Regions from separate parts of the Homo sapiens genome. Here region 1 is linked to region 2. Evidence: fine-mapped expression QTL. A gene starts in region 2. The other region holds a variant in brackets. All regions are shown on one strand. Distances are between the middles of the regions. Region 1 overlaps CPNE7 (copine 7). Region 2 holds the start of CPNE7 (copine 7).

Region 1 (10,029 bases), 23 kb before region 2:
GTGCTTCCCTCCAGCCCCTCCAGTGCTCCCCTCCAGCCCCCAGTGCTTCCCTCCAGCCCCCAGGGCTCCCCTCCAGCCCCCAGGGCTTCCCCTCCAGCCTCCAGTGCTCCCCTCCAGCCCCCAGTGCTTCCCTCCAGCCCCTCCAGTGCTCCCCTCCAACCCCCAGTGCTCCCCTCCAGCCCCCAATGCTCCCCTCCAACCCCCAGTGCTCCCCTCCAGCCCCCAGTGCTCCCCTCCAGCCCCCAGTGCTTCCTGCCAGCCCCCAGTGCTCCCCTCCAACCCTCAGTGCTCCCCTCCAACCCCCACTGCTTCCCTCCAGCCCCCAATGCTCCTCTGCAGCCCAGGGCTTCCCCTCCAGCCTCCAGTGCTCCCCTCCAGCCCCCAGTGCTTCCTCCAGCCCCCAGTGCTCCCCTCCAGCCTCCAGGGCTCCCCTCCAGCCCCCAGGGCTTCCCCTCCAGCCCCAGGGTCCCCTCCAGCCCCCAGGGCTTCCCCTCCAGCCCCCAGTGCTCCCCTCCAGCCCCCAGGGCTTTCCCTCCAGCCCCCAGGGCTCCCCTCCAGCCCCCAGGGCTTCCTCTCCAGCCTCCAGGGCTCCCCTCCAGCCCCCAGGGCTTCCCCTCCAGCCCCCAGTGCTCCCCTCCAGCCCCCAGGGCTTTCCCTCCAGCCCCCAGGGCTCCCCTCCAGCCCCCAGTGCCCCCCTCCAGCCCCCAGTGCCTCCCTCCAGCCCCCAGTGCTTCTCTGCACAGTGGGATGATAATGTACTGTCCTGGTGGAGTAATGGGGCACCAAGACCTTGCACGTCACTTGCTCCACCTGGGGTCTGGATGCTGACTGCCTGGGATGGGGAGGGCTGGCAGTGTGGCCAAGTCCCAGTGCAACTGGGGCTCCTAAAGATGTTTCAGTAAAGCAGTGAGGACCAACACCCCCACTCCAGCCTCTTCCACATGCACAGGGCAACACATCTACACCTGTGCACACGTATGCACCCATACATCCATGCACACACATGCATGCACACACATGCACACATGCATACATGCCTATGCACACACAGAGCAACACAGATACACCCATGCACACATATGCACCCGTGCATCCATGCACCCACACATGCCTATGCACACATGCACGCACACATGCCTAACAGACACACATGTGCTCAGCCAGGACCTAGGGGCTCCAGGCTGAGTGCTGGGAACCCAGGGGCCAGACCCAGCTCGCCACCCTGCCCTGCCTCCCCAGCAGTGCACCTAGGGTTTTTCTGAGGTCGGCCGTCCCGTCAGTGAGATGCACTCACAACAGTCAGCCAGGCGGGGTTGTTGTGGGAACTTAGCTCAGTGAGTACTGGAATACTCAGTACTCCTGGGCTGTGGTGGGTCTTGATGGGGTGAGGGGAGGGAGGCACCAGCTGGACAGGGGTCCTGGGTGGGCTCTGATGGGGGTGGGGCCCCAGTGCAGGGACAGGTGAGGCGTGAGGTGGCAAGGAAGACAGCTTTCGCCCACGGCCCTGCTGTGCCAGGGGCCGGCGGTACTCCTGTCTGACAGCCCTGCCACAGCCCCCGCACCAATTACAAGCACTTAGTCACAACTTCCTGCCTGTACTCGCCTCGGCAGCAGGAGAAAGAACAGCCTGGACGCTGAGCTGCTGCTCTTCCCACTCCCTCCAGCTGCCCCCCCCACCCACCGAGTCAGAGCCCTCATCCGACTCCGCGCATGGGTGGGCAGGGGTTGACCCCGCGTCCTCAGCCTGTGAGGCCCAGGCAGCCGGTGGCCAGCAAGACAGGGTGGGGGATGCTCAGCAGCTGTGATTGGTGGTTCCTGAGAATAAGGAGAAGCCGGCTCCCCTTGTGAAACTGACACCTATTTATCCAGCAGGGGCTCCTGCATCCCTCGTTCATTCCTCACAAGATCCCTGGGAAAGAGGATGTGTCTGTTACCTCCTGCCCTACGACTCATCACGCCCAAACCGAGTGGCTTCGAACAGCAACCGTGGATTAACCCGGGCCACGACCTGGGTCAGGAATCCACACGAGGATTTGCCGTGTGGCTTTGGCTCAGGCCTCTCGTGAGGATGCAGGCAGGGCATCCTGCCCGGGGCTACAGGAGCTGCTGGAGGTGGTGCACTCGCATGGTGGCCCCTGGCACTGGCTGCCAGCCGGGAGCTCAGCTGGGGTGCGGGCGCTTGAGCTTCCTCGCAGCATCGTCAGTTTCCCGGGAGCCACATCTCCTGAGCACGGGAGCAGCGCCCAGCATTCTTACCGTGGGGTGTCAGAATCCACGTGGGGGCCAGGCACAGTGGCTCACGCCTGTAATCCCAGCACTTTGGGAGGCCGAGGTGGGTGGATCACTTGAGGTCAGGACCAGCCTGGCCAACATGGTGAAACCCTGTCTCTACTAAAAATACAAATAAAAATACAAAAATTGGCCGGGTGCGGTGGCTCACGCCTGTAATCCCAGCATTTTGGGAGGCTGAGGCGGGTGGATCACGAGGTCAGGAGATCGAGACCATCCTGGCTAACACGGTGAAACCCTGTTTCTACTAAAAATACAAAAAATTAGCCGGGCATAGTGGCGGGCGCCTGTAGTCCCAGCTACTCGGGAGGCTGAGGCAGGAGAATGGCATGAACCTGGGAGGCGGAGCTTGCAGTGAGCCAAGATCGCACCACTGCACTCCAGCCTGGTCGACAGAGCCAGACTCCGTCTCAAAAAAAAAAAAAAAAATACAAAAATTAGCCAGGTGTGGTGGCACGCGCCTGTAATCCCAGCTACTTGGGAGGCTGAGGCAGGAGAATCACTTGAACCCGGGAGGCGGAGGTTGCAGTGAGCTGAGATCCCACCGCTGCACTCCAGCCCGGGTGACAGAGCGAGACTCCATCTCAAAAACAAACAAAAATAAGCCACATTGGACCGAAGTCTTCCTAGGTTCAAGAAGAAGGAACATAAACCAACTTCCAATGGAAGGGGCTGAGGAGTCTAGAGCCATGTTTCAAAGCTGCTATATCCGCGTGACAGGCAAGGAACAAGGCTCTGACTCACTGAGACTGTGATGGCTTGTCCAGGGTCACACAGCGGGAGCTGGTGTCCAGCTTGACTGAGGCTGTTTCCAAATCTCAAATCCACCCCCGAGGAGGAGCTCCTCCGCCTGCTGCAGGCAGTCCCTGGACTGGGTCCCATGGTGGCCCTTGCTGTGGGGTCCTGGCAGCTACACACTTTCTGCTTCTTATTTGGGAAATAAGTCCACATCCAGGCAGGTCATACCCAGGCTATTCTCAGCAAGGGTCAGGCTCTAATTCGAGGTCAGGAGGGGCTGAAGACTCAGGGAACCCATTGGTCTCACCTGGGGGTCTCCACACCGGCCGGCAGGACCCCTGACTGCCCTGCCCTAGGGGCCCCTCTGGGTTTCAGAGCCGGATGTCACACCCCGGGGAGGAAGATGCCTGACAGGTGGACCTACAGGAACTGCAGAACTAGCATCTCAATTCCTAGGACTCAGCCTGGAGCCTGCAGGTCCCGGCTAAGCACGTGTCCGTGTGGATGTGTTAGGCATGTATGCACATGTCTGTGCATGGATGCGTGGGTGCACGTGTGCGTGCGTGGATGTGTGGGTGCGTGTGGGTGCATGTGTGTGCATGGATGTGTGGGTGCGCGTGTGTGTGCACAGGTGTATACATGTTGCTCTGTGTGTGTGTGCACACCAGCTACACAAAGCTAGCACCTCTGCTTCTGACTGGCTGTGTGACCTTGGGCAGGGCACCTCACTGTGCTGAACCCTGATTTTCTTGTCTGTGAAAAAGGAGCATCTGTCATCCTTTTGGGGCAGGATCCTTGGGTGGCAAATGACAGAAACCCAGTCCCACCTGAGCTAATCAGAAAGGGAGCTCATGGCTCCTCAATGGGAAGTATCGGCTCAGGAGCAGGCCTGACAGGAGCAGGCCTGAGCATGCACCTGCCACCAGCTCTCTGGGTAGTGTCCTTCCCAGGCAGGCCCTGCCCATGTGACCCCGCTAAGTGGTCACTGTCCACAGCTCCTCAAGCCAGGAAGAAACAAGGGGTCCCAGAACTGAGTCTCACGGGCCAGCTTGGGGCACGTCCATCCCTGGAGCAAGCACTGTGGCCAGGAGGCAGCAGCCCCTGCCTGGCCAGGCCTGGATCCTGTGTTCATCCCAGTGACCCACGGGGTTAGGGGGAGAAGTCAAATTATTATTGCGTGCGTCTCTGAGCAACGTTGGGCTGCTTTCTCAGGCTGGGAATTGCTGGCGAAAGTCACATTCTCAGAGCTGAGCTGGCAGACGCCATCCTGTCCCTGCTGTCCCTCGATGGTCTCAAACACACCCCAGACACCCAGCAGCACAGAGACCAGGGTGGCCCAGCCTGCCCACTGGCCTGACCCCAGGGCTGCTGCCTTCTGCCATGGGAGGACGGCAGGAGAAGAGAGGGTGGGAGGAGGGGGCTGGGGTGCTCACAGCCACTCCCTGCTTGCTCCATAGGGGTCTGGGAGTGGCCACATCCCTGTAAGGCAGCAGTTCTGGGAAGGGACACACTCCCTCCAGGGCGCCAGCTCACCGAGTGACCTGCCCATCCCTGTCTGTCTGAGGTCAGCTCCCTGGCGCCCCACTGTGGCCGCCCCAACCCTGTTCTGAGGTAGACTCCTCGGCACACCTGCTTCCTGCTAAGATCTCAATGGACCAACACCTCTCGACTTT[G/C]AGTCAGCCCAGAAACCGTCTGACACTTTCTGGCCCAAAAACCACAGGCAGGTGGCACAGGGCACCAACACTCACCCTCTGTCCCAGCCCCTGAGACCCCCGACCCGCTCAGGGCCCCAGCCCCGATACTCACCCTCTGCCCAGCCCCTGAGACCCCCAATCAGCACAGGGCCCGGATACTCACTCTCTGTCCAGCCCGAGACCCCCTGACCTGCACAGGGCCCTGACACGCAACCTCTGCCCAGCCCCCGAGACCCCCGATCAGCACAGGGCCCTGATACTCACCCTCTGTCCAGCCTGAGACCCCCCCACACCTGCACAGGGCCCTGACACCCTCTGTCCAGCCCGAGACCCCCGATCAGCACAGGGCCCTGACACGCACCCTCTGCCCAGCCCCTGAGACCCCCGATCAGCACAGGGCCCTGATACTCACCCTCTGTCCAGCCTGAGACCCCCCCACACCTGCACAGGGCCCTGACACCCTCTGTCCAGCCCGAGACCCCCGATCAGCACAGGGCCCTGACACGCACCCTCTGCCCAGCCCCTGAGACCTCCGATCTGCACAAGGCCCGGATACTCACCCTCTGTCCAGCCTGAGACCCCCCCACACCTGCACAGGGCCCTGACACGCACCCTCTGCCCAGCCCCTGAGACCTCCGATCTGCACAAGGCCCGGATACTCACCCTCTGTCCAGCCTGAGACCCCCCCACACCTGCACAGGGCCCTGACACGCACCCTCTGCCCAGCCCCTGAGACCTCCGATCTGCACAAGGCCCGGATACTCACCCTCTGTCCAGCCTGAGACCCCCCCACACCTGCACAGGGCCCTGACACGCACCCTCTGCCCAGCCCCTGAGACCTCCGATCTGCACAAGGCCCGGATACTCACCCTCTGTCCAGCCTGAGACCCCCCCACACCTGCACAGGGCCCTGACACGCACCCTCTGCCTGGCCAGCCCCTGAGGCCCCCCGACCGGCTCAGGGCCTGAAGCCTCAGATGTGGATGGAGGGGTGATCTCTGGGCCTGTCCATCCCCAAAGAGACCAACATTGATCCTTCTGAAATTCACAGACTGGCCAGGTTACCATGGCGATACCCATGATCCCTGCTTAACAGAGGACGAAGCAAGAGCTAAAAATAGGCCCCAGAGTGGATGGATGGACAGATGGGTGGGTGGGGGGATGGGTGGACGGATGGGTGGACGGACGGGTGGGCGGATGGGTGGACGGATGGGTGGGCGGGGGGATGGGCGGGGGGATGGGTGGGCGGATGGGTGGATGGATGGACGGGTGGACAGATGGGTGGATGGATGGGTGGGCGGGGGAATGGGTGGACGGATGGGTGAGTGGACGGATGGGTGAGTGGATGGATGGGTGGACGGATGGGTGGGGGGATGGGTGGACGGATGGGTGGACGGATGGGTGGGTGGGGGGATGGGTGGATGGATGGGTGGGTGGGGGGATGGATGGACGGACGGGTGGGTGGGGGGATGGGTGGACGGATGGGTGGACGGATGGGTGGACAGATAGGTGGACAGATGGGTGGACGGATGGGTGGGGGATGGATGGACGGATGGGTGGGTGGACGGATGGGTGGATGGATGGGTGGACAGATGGGTGGGTGGGGGGATGGATGGACGGATGGGTGGACAGATGGGTGGGCGGGGGGATGGGTGGACAGATGGGTGGGCGGGGGGATGGGTGGACGGATGGGTGGGCGGGGGGATGGGTGGACGGATGGGTGGGCAGGGCGATGGGTGGACGGATGGGTGGGTGGATGGACCGATGTGGGGATGGGTGGGCCTGGATTCAGGGTTAGGACAATTTGTTTTTCTCAGGCAAGATCATTCAGGGGAAATCTCAAACTCAGGGCGAGGAGGTCCCAGCAGGTGGGAGATGCCCCGGCTCCACGAACATCACATGGAGGCTTCACCCTCCAGCCCAGCTCCCTGCGGTGCAGGCCATGTGGGAGGCTCCTGGCACCCCTGCATCACGTCCACAGTCCTCACTCACTGGGTTTCAGGCCTGGGAGTCCCAGGAAGCCGAGTGGAGCTCCTTCGCGGGTGGAGGCAGCCATGGTGCGGATCCCCGCTCTCTGCCCCTGGCAGCCTGTGCATCCCGCATCCCATTCAGTCCAGGGAGGATCCTGGTGTGCTGGGCCTGGGAGAGCCCCTGCCTCAGATGTGGGCACTTTGGAAGCCAGGCCCAGCCCTCTGGGGGGTTGGGGAAGGGACTGAAGGCACAAGAGAACTACAAGGATAGGGTGACACTTTATTACTCCTGAAGCCCCACCGGCAGAACCCACAGGCCAGGCAGACCCCGCAGACCCCGCAGACCCCATGGACCCAGGTGCAGAGGCCCGACGGCAAAAAGCACAGGGTAGGTGGGTGTGGGGGCACCAGCAGGGACAGGAGGCTGACTGTGGGGACAGGATGTCTGGGTCCCCAGGCTTTGACTGTGGGGACAGGTGTCTGGGTCCCCCAGGCTTTCTCGGGCGTGGGGGGACTGCCTTGCTGGCCCTCCCCCACAAAGGTTAGACGCAAAGCAGAGCCCCCAGTCCCTGCCCCTTCTCATCGGGGCAGGGTCTCCCGTGGATGAACTCCCAGCTCCCTCCAAGTCCCTCATGATCTCCCTCCCTCCACCCACCTGGCTCAGGCAGGGCCAGGCATGGGGGCCTGTATTTTGTCACCCTTCGGCCTTGGGGGCCCCAGAGCCGGGCCCAAGCCAGCAGGATCCCAGGAGGACTGGGAGTGGGGCCTGGTGGGGACTGGAGGCTTCTGGGAGGTCGGAGGGAGCTTAAGGGACCCCAAGCATGTTGCAGACAGAGGCTGTACGGACCCATTCCTCACTGCCCCCACCCTACGCCCTCCACATCTTCACGGTGTGCAGCCTGGGCTGGCCTCTCCGGCAGGGACACCCAGGCTTCTCGGGGGCAGGCCTCTGTGGCTGTAGTACTCCACCACCTGCTTCGGGACCTCGGCCAGCACGCACTTGGCCAGCGCCGCAGGGGATGCCTGGAGGATGGGACAACGCAGTTACCTCTGGGACCTTCGAGATGGAGATCATCCGTCCCTGCAACTGGATTATGGCCCAGGCCTCATCCTCCAGAGCCGAGTGGTGACTACCCACCCCCACCAGAGGCTCACCTGGGTGCCGGGCAAGACTTGCTGAGGATGTCGGCCACATGAGGCTGCACGTGGGTCTTTCCAGCCCCCCAAGCACGGAGATGAAAAGTGCTGACACGGGAGGCGAGGCCACCTCCATGGTCCAGGCCCCACCCACACTTCCCCGGCAAAGCCTGAGCGTGTCTGTGTGATGTGACTCACTGCAGAGCTTCATGTGTCTGTAATATGCATGTTTCACTGCGTAGAATGTCACGTGTCCGTGTCTTCATGCATGTCTGTGGTGTCTTGCTGTGTAGAACTTCACATCTATGTGGCATGCACGTCTTGCTGTAGGGCCTCATGTGTGACATGTGTGTCTTGCCTGGTAGAACCTCACGTGTGTGCTGTGCGTCTCACCGGGTAGAACCTCACGTGTGTGCTGTGTGTGTCTCGGCGGGTAGAACCTCACGTGTGTGCTGTGCGTGTCTCGCCGGGTCGCAGAGGTTGGCAGCAACGGGGGAAGCCGCGTGGTGGATCCCAGGAGCCCCTTGTGCTGTTCTCTGCTTTTGTGTAGATTCGACAAGTTTCAAAACGGTGGAGGGTGTTTCAGGTGCTCAAAGTCCTGGCTTCAGATACTGCTCTTGACTGGGGGGAACAGCCCAGGATCCCCCAGACACAAGAAGGGACCTGCCACATCCACTGGCGTGAGCCTGGCCTGGGAAGGTCTTGGGCAGTGACATGAACAGGGACCCCCAAGCCGGCCTTGACGGAGCCCCTCCAGGACACTCACGTTCTTGAGCTCCCGGAAGGGCACGAACTGTACGATGTCCCGGAGCGCGGGCTCACCCCGTGGGGAGCGCAGGACGCCGTCGTCGCCGTCCAGGACCTGCATGTCGGTGAAGTCGGCGTTGCCCACGCCCACGATGATGATGGACATGGGCAGGCGTGAGGCACGCACAATGGCCTCCCGTGTGTCGGCCATGTCGGTCACCACGCCGTCCGTCAGGATCAGCAGGATGTAGTATTGCTGGGGGCACAGGAAAGGCATCAGCAACACCACACCTGCCATGGCCCACATGCGCCCTGCAACCCACGGGCCCCCAGACAGCCCAGAGTGCCTCCGTGCGTCAGAGCTTCCTAGAACCGCCTTCAGAGTGTGATGCCTACATCACAAACATCACGAACAACAGTGGGTCAGGAGCCCCCTCCGTGGCGGGCACTCTGGGCCTCCTGTGCCCAGCTCAGGAAATCTCCACGAGTCTCACGGAGGGCTGTGGAGGGGGTGCTACGAAGTCTACATTTTACTGATGAGCTCACAGTGCCTGGATGGGAGGTCTGAGGCCAGAGGAGAAATCTGCGATCCCAGGAGCCAGACCTGCAGCCCACACACCCTGCTCCAGTCTCTCCAGGGTGCCCGCTGTGCTGCCACAAGACTGAGTGTTGGCCGGACGCGGTGGTTCACGCCTGTAATCTCAGCACTTTGGGAGGCCGAGGCGGGCGGATCACCTGAGGTCAGGAGTTCGAGACCAGCCTGGCCAAAATGGTGAAACCCCATCTCTACTAAAAATACAAAAACTAGCTGGGCGTGGTGGTGGGCGCCTGTAATCCCAGCTATTCGGGAGGCTGAGGCATGAGAATCGCTTGAACTTGGGAGGCAGAGGGTGCAGTGAGCTGAGATCGCGCCATTGCACTTCAGCCTGGCGATAGAGTGAGACTGTCTCCAAAAAAAAAAAAAAAAAAAAAAAAAAAAAGGCAGAATGGAACTTCAAATAAAATCAACTTCCATTGTTTAAAAAAAACCCCACTCAATAATCTTGCCCAAACTGTGGACAACGGGAAACATAAAGAGAAGCAGGGCTCGCCTGAGCAGCAGAGCGGGAGCCCACAGCAGCCTCCCCTGGGCTGGCCTTGACTGAGCCCGTCCCACTGAGGGCAGATGTGTCCTGGAAACGAACAGGGGCCCCAGGACCCCACTCAGAGTCGCCTTCTCCAAGAGGCTCTCTTTTTGTGCCCTCCCCATCTCCCCCTCTCTGAGCCCCACACCTGTGGGAAGAATTACCTGTTTGCAAGGCAGTCTCTGGTCCAGGCCTACAAGCACCCACGGCTGTGCCCAGCCTGGCTCTCGGCCTCCAGATAAACAGCCCAGCCTCAGAAAGCCCCCCACCCCCTCCCAACCCCAGATGAGGCCCCCACCCCCCTCTGCCAACTGTGCGAGCACCAGGCAC
Region 2 (10,029 bases):
TCTGTGTGACTGGTGACAGGATGTTCCGTGTGACGGGTGATCGGATGTTCCGTGTGAGTGGGTGATGGGATGTTCCATGTGATGGGTGATCAGATATTCCGTGTCAGCGGGAGACGGAATGTTCCGTGTGACGGGTGACGGGATGTTCCATGTGATGGGTGAGATGTTCTGTGTGATTGGTGAGATGTTCCATGTGACGGGTGATGGGATGTTCCGTGTGACAGGTGACGGGATGTTCCATGTGATGGGTTACGGGATGTTCCGTGTGACGGGTGACGGGATGTTCCGTGTGACAGGTGATGGGATGTTCCGTGTGATGGGTGAGATGTTCCATGTCAGCGGGTGACGGGATGTTCCGTGTGATGGGTGAGATGTTCCATGTGACGGGTGATGGGATGTTCCGTGTGACGGGTGATGGCATGTTCCGTGTGACGGGTGATGGGATGTTCCGTGTGATGGGTGACGGGATGTTCCGTGTTACAGGTGACGGGATGTTCCGTGTGACGGGTGAGATGTTCTGTGTCAGCGGGTGATGGGATGTTCCGTGTGATGGGTGAGATGTTCTGTGTCAGCGGGTGACGGGATGTTCCGTGTGACAGGTGAGATGTTCCGTGTGATGGGTGATGGGATGTTCCATGTGACGGGTGATGGGATGTTCCGTGTGACAGGTGAGATGTTCCGTGTCAGCGGGTGACGGGATGTTCCGTGTGATGGGTGAGATGTTCCGTGTGATGGGTGATGGGATGTTCCATGTGACGGGTGATGGGATGTTCCGTGTGACGGGTGAGATGTTCTGTGTCAGCGGGTGACGGGATGTTCCGTGTGATGGGTGAGATGTTCCGTGTGATGGGTGAGATGTTCTGTGTGATGGGTGATGGGATGTTCCGTGTGACGGGTGATGGGATGTTCCATGTGACGGGTGATGGGATGTTCCGTGTGACGGGTGATGGGATGTTCCGTGTGACGGGTGAGATGTTCTGTGTCAGCGGGTGACGGGATGTTCCGTGTGATGGGTGAGATGTTCTGTGTCTGCAGGTGATGGGATGTTCCGTGTGATGGGGGAGATGTTCCGTGTCAGCGGGTGACGGGATGTTCCGTGTGACGGGTGAGATGTTCTGTGTCAGCGGGTGACGGGATGTTCCGTGTGACGGGTGAGATGTTCTGTGTCAGCGGGTGACGGGATGTTCTGTGTGATGGGTGAGATGTTCCGTGTCTGCAGGTGATGGGATGTTCCGTGTGACGGGTGAGATGTTCCGTGTCAGCGGGTGACAGGATGTTCCGTGTGATGGGTGAGATGTTCCGTGTGATGGGATGTTCCGTGTGACGGGTGACGGGATGTTCCATGTGACGGGTGAGATGTTCTGTGTCAGCGGGTGACGGGATGTTCCGTGTGATGGGTGAGATGTTCCGTGTCAGCAGGTGACGGGATGTTCCGTGTGATGGGTGAGATGTTCCGTGTGATGGGTGTGGGATGTTCCGTGTGACGGGTGAGATGTTCCGTGTCAGCGGGTGACGGGATGTTCCGTGTGATGGGTGAGATGTTCTGTGTGATGGGTGATGGGATGTTCCGTGTGATGGGTGATGGGATGTTCCATGTGAGCAGATGACGGGATGTTCCATGTGATGGGTGAAGGGATGTTCCATGTGACGGGTGAGATGTGATGGGTGATGGGATGTTCCGTGTGATGGGTGAAGGGATGTTCTGTGTGACGGGTGAGATGTGATGGCTGACGGGATGTTCCGTGTCATGGGTGAGATGTGACAAGTGATGGGATGTTCTGTGTGATGGGATGTTCCGTGTGACGGGTGATCGGATGTTCCGTGTCAGCAGGTGACAGGATGTTCCGTGTGAGGGGTGAAGGGATGTTCTGTGTGACAGGTGAGATGTTCCGTGTGACGGGATGTTCTGTGTGACGGGTGATGGTCAGCTGTGTACAGTCACCTAAACTTGTCATTCTCAACCCTTAAGATTGATGCATTTTATCGTAAAATTTTTTTTTTTTTTTGAGACAAAGACTCACTGTCACCTGGGCTGGTGTGCAGTGGCGCGATCTCGGCTCGCTGAAACCTCTGCCTCCCAGGTTCAAGTGATTCTCCTGCCTCAGCCTCCCCAGTAGCTGGGACTACAGGCACGCACCACCACGCCTGGCTAATTTCTTTTCTATTTTTAGTAGAGATGGGGTTTCATCATGTTGGCCAGGCTGGTCTCGAACTCCTGACCTCGTGATCCCCCCACCTCGGACTTCCAAAGTGCTGCGATTACAGGCGTGAGCCACCGTGCCCGGCCTGTAAATTTTACCTCAATAAAAAAGAAGGACCCGTCCTGGCAAGGTGTGAGGATTCCGTGCAGCACAGGAAGTGCTTAGCGCAGTGTCCAGCAGGGCCCAGCACATCAACAGACACTCTCATCACGACTTGCAGAAGCCACTTTTGGGCTGGCTGTGGAGGCCGTAACCCAGAGAGCATCACCAAGGAAGCAGTGGCCACCGTAGGACCTGCTGCTCACAAGGAGGCTTCTTTTTTTTTTTTTTTTTTTGAGACAGAGTCTCAATCTGTCACTCAGGCTGGAGTGCAGTGGTGAGATCTCCACTCACTGCAACCTCTGCCTCCCGGGTTCAACCGATTCTCCTGCCTCAGCCTCCAGAGTAGCTGGGATTACAGGCACATGCCACCATGCCCGGCTAATTATTGTACTTTTTGTAGAGATGAGGTTTCAGCATGTTGGCCAGGCTGGTCTCGAACTCCTGACCTCAAGTGATCTGCCCGCCTCGGCCTCCCACAGTGCTGGGATCACAGGTGTGAGCCACCACGGCCGGCCACCAGGAGACTTTTAGGTGCTGATATGGAGGGGCTGCTGCACGTCGTGGAAGTGAAAACGCAGGATGCAGAACAGGGAACGTAATTTGTGTATTTTTGAAAAAAGAGGAAAAGTGGGCTGGGCACCGTGGCTCACGCCTGTAATCCCAGCACTTTGGGAGGACAAGGCAGGCGGATCACGAGGTCAGGATTTCAAGAGCAGCCTGACCAACATGGTGAAACCCCGTCTCTACTGAAAATACAAAAATTAGCCGGGCGTGGTGGCGGGTGCCTGTAATCCCAGCTACTCAGGAGGCTGAGGCAGGAGAATCGCTTGAACCCAGGAGGTGGAGGTTGCAGTGAGCCGAGATCACGCCACTGCACTCCAGCCTGGGTGACAGAGCGAGACTACATCTCAAAAAAAAAAAAAAAGAAAAAGAAAAAAAAGAAAAAAGAGGAAAAGTGATAGGCTGGTTTGCTCCTGTGAAAATCTCTCTCTGGACAATGTCCAGGGACCTGGCAGCAGCTGGATGGGGCAGGATGGAGGCGCTCCACAGCCTTTTATACCTTCAGGCTTTAAAACATACGAATGTATTACCCAGTTCAAAATTACATGTATATTTTAATCTAATAATGACTGTTCAGGAGGAGCTGAGGAGGGGGCAGAGCCAGGTTGGCCACCCCAGCAGGGTCCCTGCGGTGCTGGTACATCAGCCTTGAATCGGCTGTGGCCCCCACGCCAACCGTCCTCCTCCCTCCGAGGGGACGGGGCACCCACCTGCCCCAGGGTGCACTCCATGCCCCCCAGGAAATCGTCCTCCTGACAGCTGAAGCCGCTGGGCCCATGCGTGTCGTACACCTCAAAGCGCAGCCTCTGCACCTCCTCGAAGTAGTAGTCCACCGTGAAGACCTTGGAGAACACGGGATGCAGGCTGCTCCGGACCACCTCGGTTCTGCCCACCTGCAAGTGCACCTGTGAGCCGACCCCACTCCAGAGGCTTCCACCCCGGGCTCCAGACCTCCATCTCCCCTCTGCCGCTCACCCACGCCCAGGTACCTCAGGAGGACTCATACCCTGGGAAGACCTCCTGCCTGCTCTCTGTCCATGGGACCACAATCCCGAGGGCCACCCTGGGGGTCACCCCTGGCCACCACTGTCTGCTCCACCCTCAGATCACAGATGGGGAAAGTGAGGCTCACAGAGGACGAGAATGACACGCTGAGTCGGGGGCGAGATCAGATTCACACCCTGGGCTGGGCAGCCCTAAAGTGCAGGCCGCTCCCCAGCACCAGCTGAGTGGGGAGGGGGCGTAGGGTACAGGGGGGCCCTCCCTCCTGGCTGGGGTACCATGGGCTCACCAGCCTCTCCCATCCCATGCAGTTCCCTGGTCCAACTGCCCCGTAAGGACAAGACCCAGCTGGGCCAGTAGGCTACTCATTTCAGAATCCTGAAAAATCCTGCACCTCAAACCAAGGGCAAACATGGGCCACCCGTACAGCTCACGCTCTGAGGGTGCGGGCACGAGGCCTCCGTGGGGATGGTGGGCTCGGGATGTGAAGGGTGGGCTCAGGCTGTGAGGGGCGGGCACGGGGCCTCCGGGGGCAGCCGGAACCCTGGGGACAGGCGGTGAGGGCGGGGCAGGCCCTTCACCCTCAAGGTGGATGACCGGAGACGCCACCGGGTGACCGCGTCCCTTCCACCGCCCGAGCAGCCGCCCGGGCCCGCGCTGGAGCCTGGAGAGACCCCTGCGCCGGGGAAAAGCGCTGGCGCCCCGCGCGGACTGGGGTTCGAGTTCCGGCTCCTCCGCCCGCTGCGGCTTCGCGCCATGCGTTTCTCGCCCTTTCGAGGTGAAGCCACGCGTTTCACGCGAGATGGTGACCGAGGAAGCGCCCGTCTGGCGCCGGCCCCGTGCCCCTTCGGACCCCAACCGCGATCACAGCGGGTTCGCTTGAGACCCACGTTGGAGCGGGAGCCCCGGACGCCTGGAGGTCCGCACCCCAGCGCGCGCTCCCTCGCCGGCCTGCTCCCGCCCAGCCTCCCGCCCCCCGTCGGCCGGCGCCCCTCACCCCTCAATCTCCTTGCGCCTCTTGGTCGAGCCCCCTGCCCGCGCCTCATGCCTGGGCGCTTCACTCTGGCCCGGGGCCCCCTCCCCGAACCCTGGGCCGCACCCCTCACTGCGGGGCACCCCCCTCTCTCCTCCGAACCCCGCTCGCCGCCACCTCCTCCAGCCCAGCCTCTCCCCACAGCTCTGGACACCCCACCCCCAGACCTGGTAACCCCCAACCCTGACCCCGAGCTGAGCCCCAGCTCCGGGGGGCCCCGCCTTGCGCCCCACTGGCCTCAGCGCGCCCGCTCTGGTCTCCGCATCCCCAGCTCGGCGCCAGCCCCGGCCCGGTGGCCTCTCGGCCTCCCACGCCCCGGCCCTACCTGCACCCACTGGCCCTGCGCCTGCTGCAGCAACGCCACGCTGGGGTCGGACTTGGTGAGCGGGTCGCGGTCCAGCAGGTGCCGGCAGCTGAGCCGCAGCTCCACCTTCGAGGCGCAGGGCGCGGGCAAACCCCCGGGGGTTGCCGCCGCCCCGCGCTCCGAGCCCGCGCTCATGCTCCCGGCGTTCGGGGGCCCGGCTGGGCGCACTGAGGGGCCGCTGCCCGCGAGTCGGCGCCGCCGCGGCGCCCGGGAAATGGTGGCCGGCCCAGGCGTGGCCGCGCTTCCCTGAACGCCTGCCGGGCGCGGGCGCACGTGGCTCGGGCGGCCGCCGCGCGGGGACTGCAGGGGGTGGGGCGCGGCCGGGGGGCGGGGCCGGGGAGGGGCGCGGCGGGAAATGAGGGCAGGGGGCAGAGGCAGGGGTGCCCCTCGGAGATGCCCGGGAGGAGACAGCTTCTAATTCCCCGGGGACCCCCCCCCCAACTGATAGCTTTGGGGTCAGGTCGGGCGCGCCCTCCCCGGCTGTGCGCATCCCCGGCCCAGGGACCGGCTCCGGGCTGGAGGCTCCGAGCTGCGCGGGGCCTGAGCCCGGGTTCGGACCCAGGCAGACACTAGGGGAGGCAAAAGGGGGACCCCAGCTTGGCACCAGATCCCCGCGCCCTTCCCGGATCTCTAGGATCCCATTTCCAGGCTCCGCTGGTTTCGGGTACTCGCCACCTCCATCAACAAGCATTTAGTGGGCGCCTGTTGTGTGCAGGCGCCGCGCTCGTCTGGGGCTGGAAGGACCGTCCCGGGGGGCCGAGGGCTGAATCGCGGTCTGATTCCGAGGGGTCCGCGGGGCACGGTCCACACCAGTCCCCCGAGGCCGGGGCGGGGCGGGGCAGGCCTGGGTTCCGTGGGGGGTGGGCCCGCTCCGCCCTGAACTCACTCCCCCACCTTCCCCATCACCGGTCCCGGGGGAGGGAGCAGCGGAAGAGGAGGCGTCGGCGGGGACAGAAACCACCTCGCAGTCCACTCTTTTTGCCGATTTCTGCCTAAAAATAGGGCACGGACCTCGCCAAAAGCCACGGGGGTGGGGGGCGAGGGTGAGGGAGACATTAAGACTGAAGAGGCGGGAAGACCGGGCGCCTCCGCTCAGCCTCGGCGATCAGGACTCTAGAAGAAGACCCTGCGGTCAGAGGGGACCGCCGCCGACAGGGCGAGGAGGCTCAGGGCCCCGCCGGCGGGAGGCAGCACAGGCAGCCTCGGCCTGGGAGGAGGAACGCGGCCAGCGGCGTCCCCTCGCGGTCGGACGGCGGGATGGCGCCGGGCGCGGCTGCAGGGCGGGGAGGCCCCACGGGGCTGGCAGGGCCGGGAGAGGCCATGGAGACCGGCTCCTGCCTTCCCGGGAGGTTGGCTAAAGAGGCGAGGAACAGGTCAGGGCGCAGCGAGGCCTGCAGGGCCCCATCTGCTGTCTCCCCGGCCTCTGCGCCTCCTCCCTGAAGCCCGCAGTGGGCAGAGGCCAGTCCCGCTCTCTAGGGACCAGTCTGGGCCTTCCCGGCCCTGTGTCCTCCTCAGCCCAGCCTTCCAGGCTGCCGGGAGGCCACATCCTCGGTCCCCAACCACTTCCATGGGAAAAGGATGCGAAATTCAGGCAAAGGGTGCGGGCGCCCAGGCAGCTCCTGCAGGCCGTGCCTCCCGCTCGGTTCCAGCAGCCCTGGGACAGTTTTCCCCAGACCAAGCTCCGCTTCCTGCCTTGACCTCACCCGAAAGCTCCTCACCACCGCCCTGAGGTTTGCTCGTCTGCAGTGTGGCGTGAGGCCTGAGGTCCACCAGGCTGTCTGAGGGGTACCCGGCTTAAACCTGGAACACCCCAGTTCAGCCCTTGGCTGTCACATAGCGGCACCCTGGCAAAATAACAGATGGCTTCCAAGCAAAGGACGCAGGGAGCCAAGAAAGATCACAGAGTTTGGGAATTTGAGTCTCTGAAGCCCAGGGCGATTTGGGATCTCCAGCCACAGCCCTCGGCCGGCTTGCTGTCTCCTGACTGACAGCCCTGACTGCAGCCTGCTCTAATGGAGAGAAACCACAGAAGGAAAAGCCGATTCCCCTGTGGCACTGGTGTCTGGACGCTGCCTGCCCCTGCTCAGGGATCAGCCCGCAGTAGGCCCAGGTACAATGGAAGGACCCCGCAGGCCATGTGGAGCCATCTTTCCAAGGCTCCCCCTCCCAGCTTTCCCTGCAGGGCCAGACACAGGAAATGAGATCCACACACATACACGCAGGAATAATAACCGTGTTCCTTGTTGAAATATTAGACAATGCAGATAGGGAGTAAAAACAAATTTCCAGACCCCAAAGCAGCCCATCACCTCCCCACATCTAACCCTCCAGGTTTTTTTTTTTATGTGCAAATTTCTTTTAATTGTCAAAAAAAAAAAAAAGGTGCCTAACTCTCAGAGCCCTTCCCACACTTGAGAGGACTCTTCAGTATCTGCACGCCAGGCTCATCACGCGGGCCAGGCCCGGGACCCCACGCCAGGCTCATCACGCGGCCCAGGCCCGGGACCCTGCCTGGCACGGTTGGAGCACCATAGGTGTTGGTGCAGATGGTTTCTGTTCTGTAACCTGCTTTTTTCTTTCTTATTGACAATATTGCATTCAATGGTTAGCCTGGATCCCCTCATCACTGGGTTACCTATGAGACCCTCTGATTAGTGCCGACCCCCACGGCTATCCAGAGGCTTACACATGATCAATTTTAGGAGCAGCAATGACATATCTGTGCCCAAGTGCCCTGTGTGGCTTCCTGGCATCCAGGACTCAGATACTTTTCAGGCCCAAGTGCCTCTGCCTCAGCCTCTCCCACCACCCGACCCCTACCTACCCTGCAAAGCCCAGCCCAGTCTGAACCGCCACCCAACATCCCTCCCTGGGCTCCCGGCCCACACGTCCACAACATCAGTTCCACTGTCCAGGGCTGTGCTGCCCATGACCTCATCCACCCTGGACCAGGAGTCCACCGAGGCCTGAGTTAACACCAGTACAGGTCCCAACACAGAGTCTAAGACAACAAACTCCAGGCGGATGAATGAAGTGCGGATCAGCGAATGAAACGCAGCTCTGGTGGCTGCTCTCTGGTCCTGGATCTGCCTCGAGGGTGTCATCTCCATCAGTCACAGAGTCCCCATCTCCCATTTCAGTAACACTGGCCACGAGGCCAACCGGGAGCAGGGAAACCTGTCCAGGGCCTCCAGAGGTTCCCGGCAGACCCCAGGCCCACTGCTACTGCCTTGAGGCACATCCCCTGGAGCCAGTGCTCTCCCCCACACTCTGACAGCCCTTTGTCCCTGAGCCAGGTCCAGAGTCCATGGCCTCCTCCCTGGCCGTCCTGAGCACACAGCTGGTGTGCTCCAGTGGACCGGTCCGGGGCTCGGTCCCCACCCCTGAATGCAGGGTCCTCGAACCTGCCCTTCATGTGGAGAGATTGTCCCAGAAGTTGCCTCAAAACAAGAAATTGCAGAGGGTGGGGGTTACTAACAGGATTGTTTAACAGGAAACAGCTCTCCACGTGTCCGGATGGGTGCTGCTTTTTTTAATCTGGTTGCAAACCTACCCTCTTCTTTTCTTTCCTCCTAAAGAAAGGTTATTTTATCTTAGAACATCTGCAACCTGTCTGGATCAGATTGTCTTCCTGCAGGATCTGATGCTGATCTTATTTGAGAAATCAACCATGCCCAGAGGCGGCCACGCCGGCTGTTGGCTGAGACAACACACCTGGCCAGTCTCAGTTCCTCGCTGACCTTGTTACAGCCTCAGAGACCTGGGGACTGATTAGGGGGACTTTCTCCTCCACCACACTCAGCACATGCAGGCACGCACGAGCACACGCCACACACGTGTGCCAAATACCGCAGACACGTGCACGTACTCATGGAGAGACAGCCCACACGCAGACACGCCAGGCACCCAAGACACACAAGCGCAGACACAGGCCACCCCAGGGCAACATATGTTCCAACCAGGGGGTCCCCTTCCTCCACTTCCTTCCCCCAACACCGTCTTCTGGGTGTGGATGAGACCCCCTTCTTCGAGACTCCCTTCTCCTCCAGGCGCGTTCTCGCGTGCAGCCCCGGGCCGCCATCCCTCCTGCCCCTTGTCTGCATGCAGCCAGGAGCAGACCATCCCAGCCCCCAGCATCTCTGCCCAGCAGGAGACACCACTGCTGGCGGGAGACATGGCTCAGAGAGGGCGTTGTGGTGGCTGAGACCACACAGCAGGGGTGGAGCTGGAACCCAGAACCCAGCTCAGAAGCCAGCGCTCACACCTTCCTCGGCCCGTCCAGGCCCTGGGGTGGAACTGGAACCCCGCTCAGAACCCAGCCCTCACGCCTTCCTTCGCCCGTCCAGCCCCCGGCGTGGCTTGATGGCTTTGCTGCCCTTGCCCAGAATGTTCCCAGCAGACCCTCAGGAGCACTTACTGTGGAGGGGCCCAGACTTCACAGCCCCTGTGCAGTGAGACCCAGGGGTCAGGGTCCCTGCCCAGGACTGCACGCTGGGGACACCGTCCGGGACTGGCTCTTCCTCACCCCCTTTGGCCCTCCTGAGCCAGGACCCCTCTGTGCTCAGACTCAGGCACCAGCCATCCCAGAGTCCCCAGGACTTGGGCTCCTGGTCCCACTGTCCCCACTCCTGGGTCCTCTCTTCTTTCTGACTGCCAAGCCTGCTGACCAGCAGTGGCCCTGGGCCCCTGGACCACCTCCCCGGCCCCCGGACCGCCTGTACCCACTCACCTCCTCCCGTCCCCGCTCACCTCCTCCCGTCCCCGCT

The links.
Region 1: its variant is fine-mapped to the expression of CPNE7 in whole blood (Lepik 2017, PIP 0.95).

Annotation. Positions count from the first base shown.
Region 1 is chr16:89,594,169-89,604,197 of GRCh38, reverse strand. CPNE7 (copine 7) reads right to left here. Exons shown (of 15, transcript NM_153636.3): 14 at 8,595-8,831; 15 at 6,952-7,714. The coding sequence ends at 7,577. Among named protein-coding and RNA genes, the nearest start is that of DPEP1, 14 kb to the left of the region's middle. RefSeq lists an enhancer at 3,751-4,664. The variant G/C (reference allele first, on the strand shown) is at 4,701.
Region 2 is chr16:89,571,267-89,581,295 of GRCh38, reverse strand. CPNE7 (copine 7) reads right to left here and starts at 5,538. Exons shown (of 15, transcript NM_153636.3): 1 at 5,225-5,538; 2 at 3,575-3,757. The coding sequence starts at 5,398. RefSeq lists silencers at 6,075-6,144, 6,385-6,614, 7,075-7,332.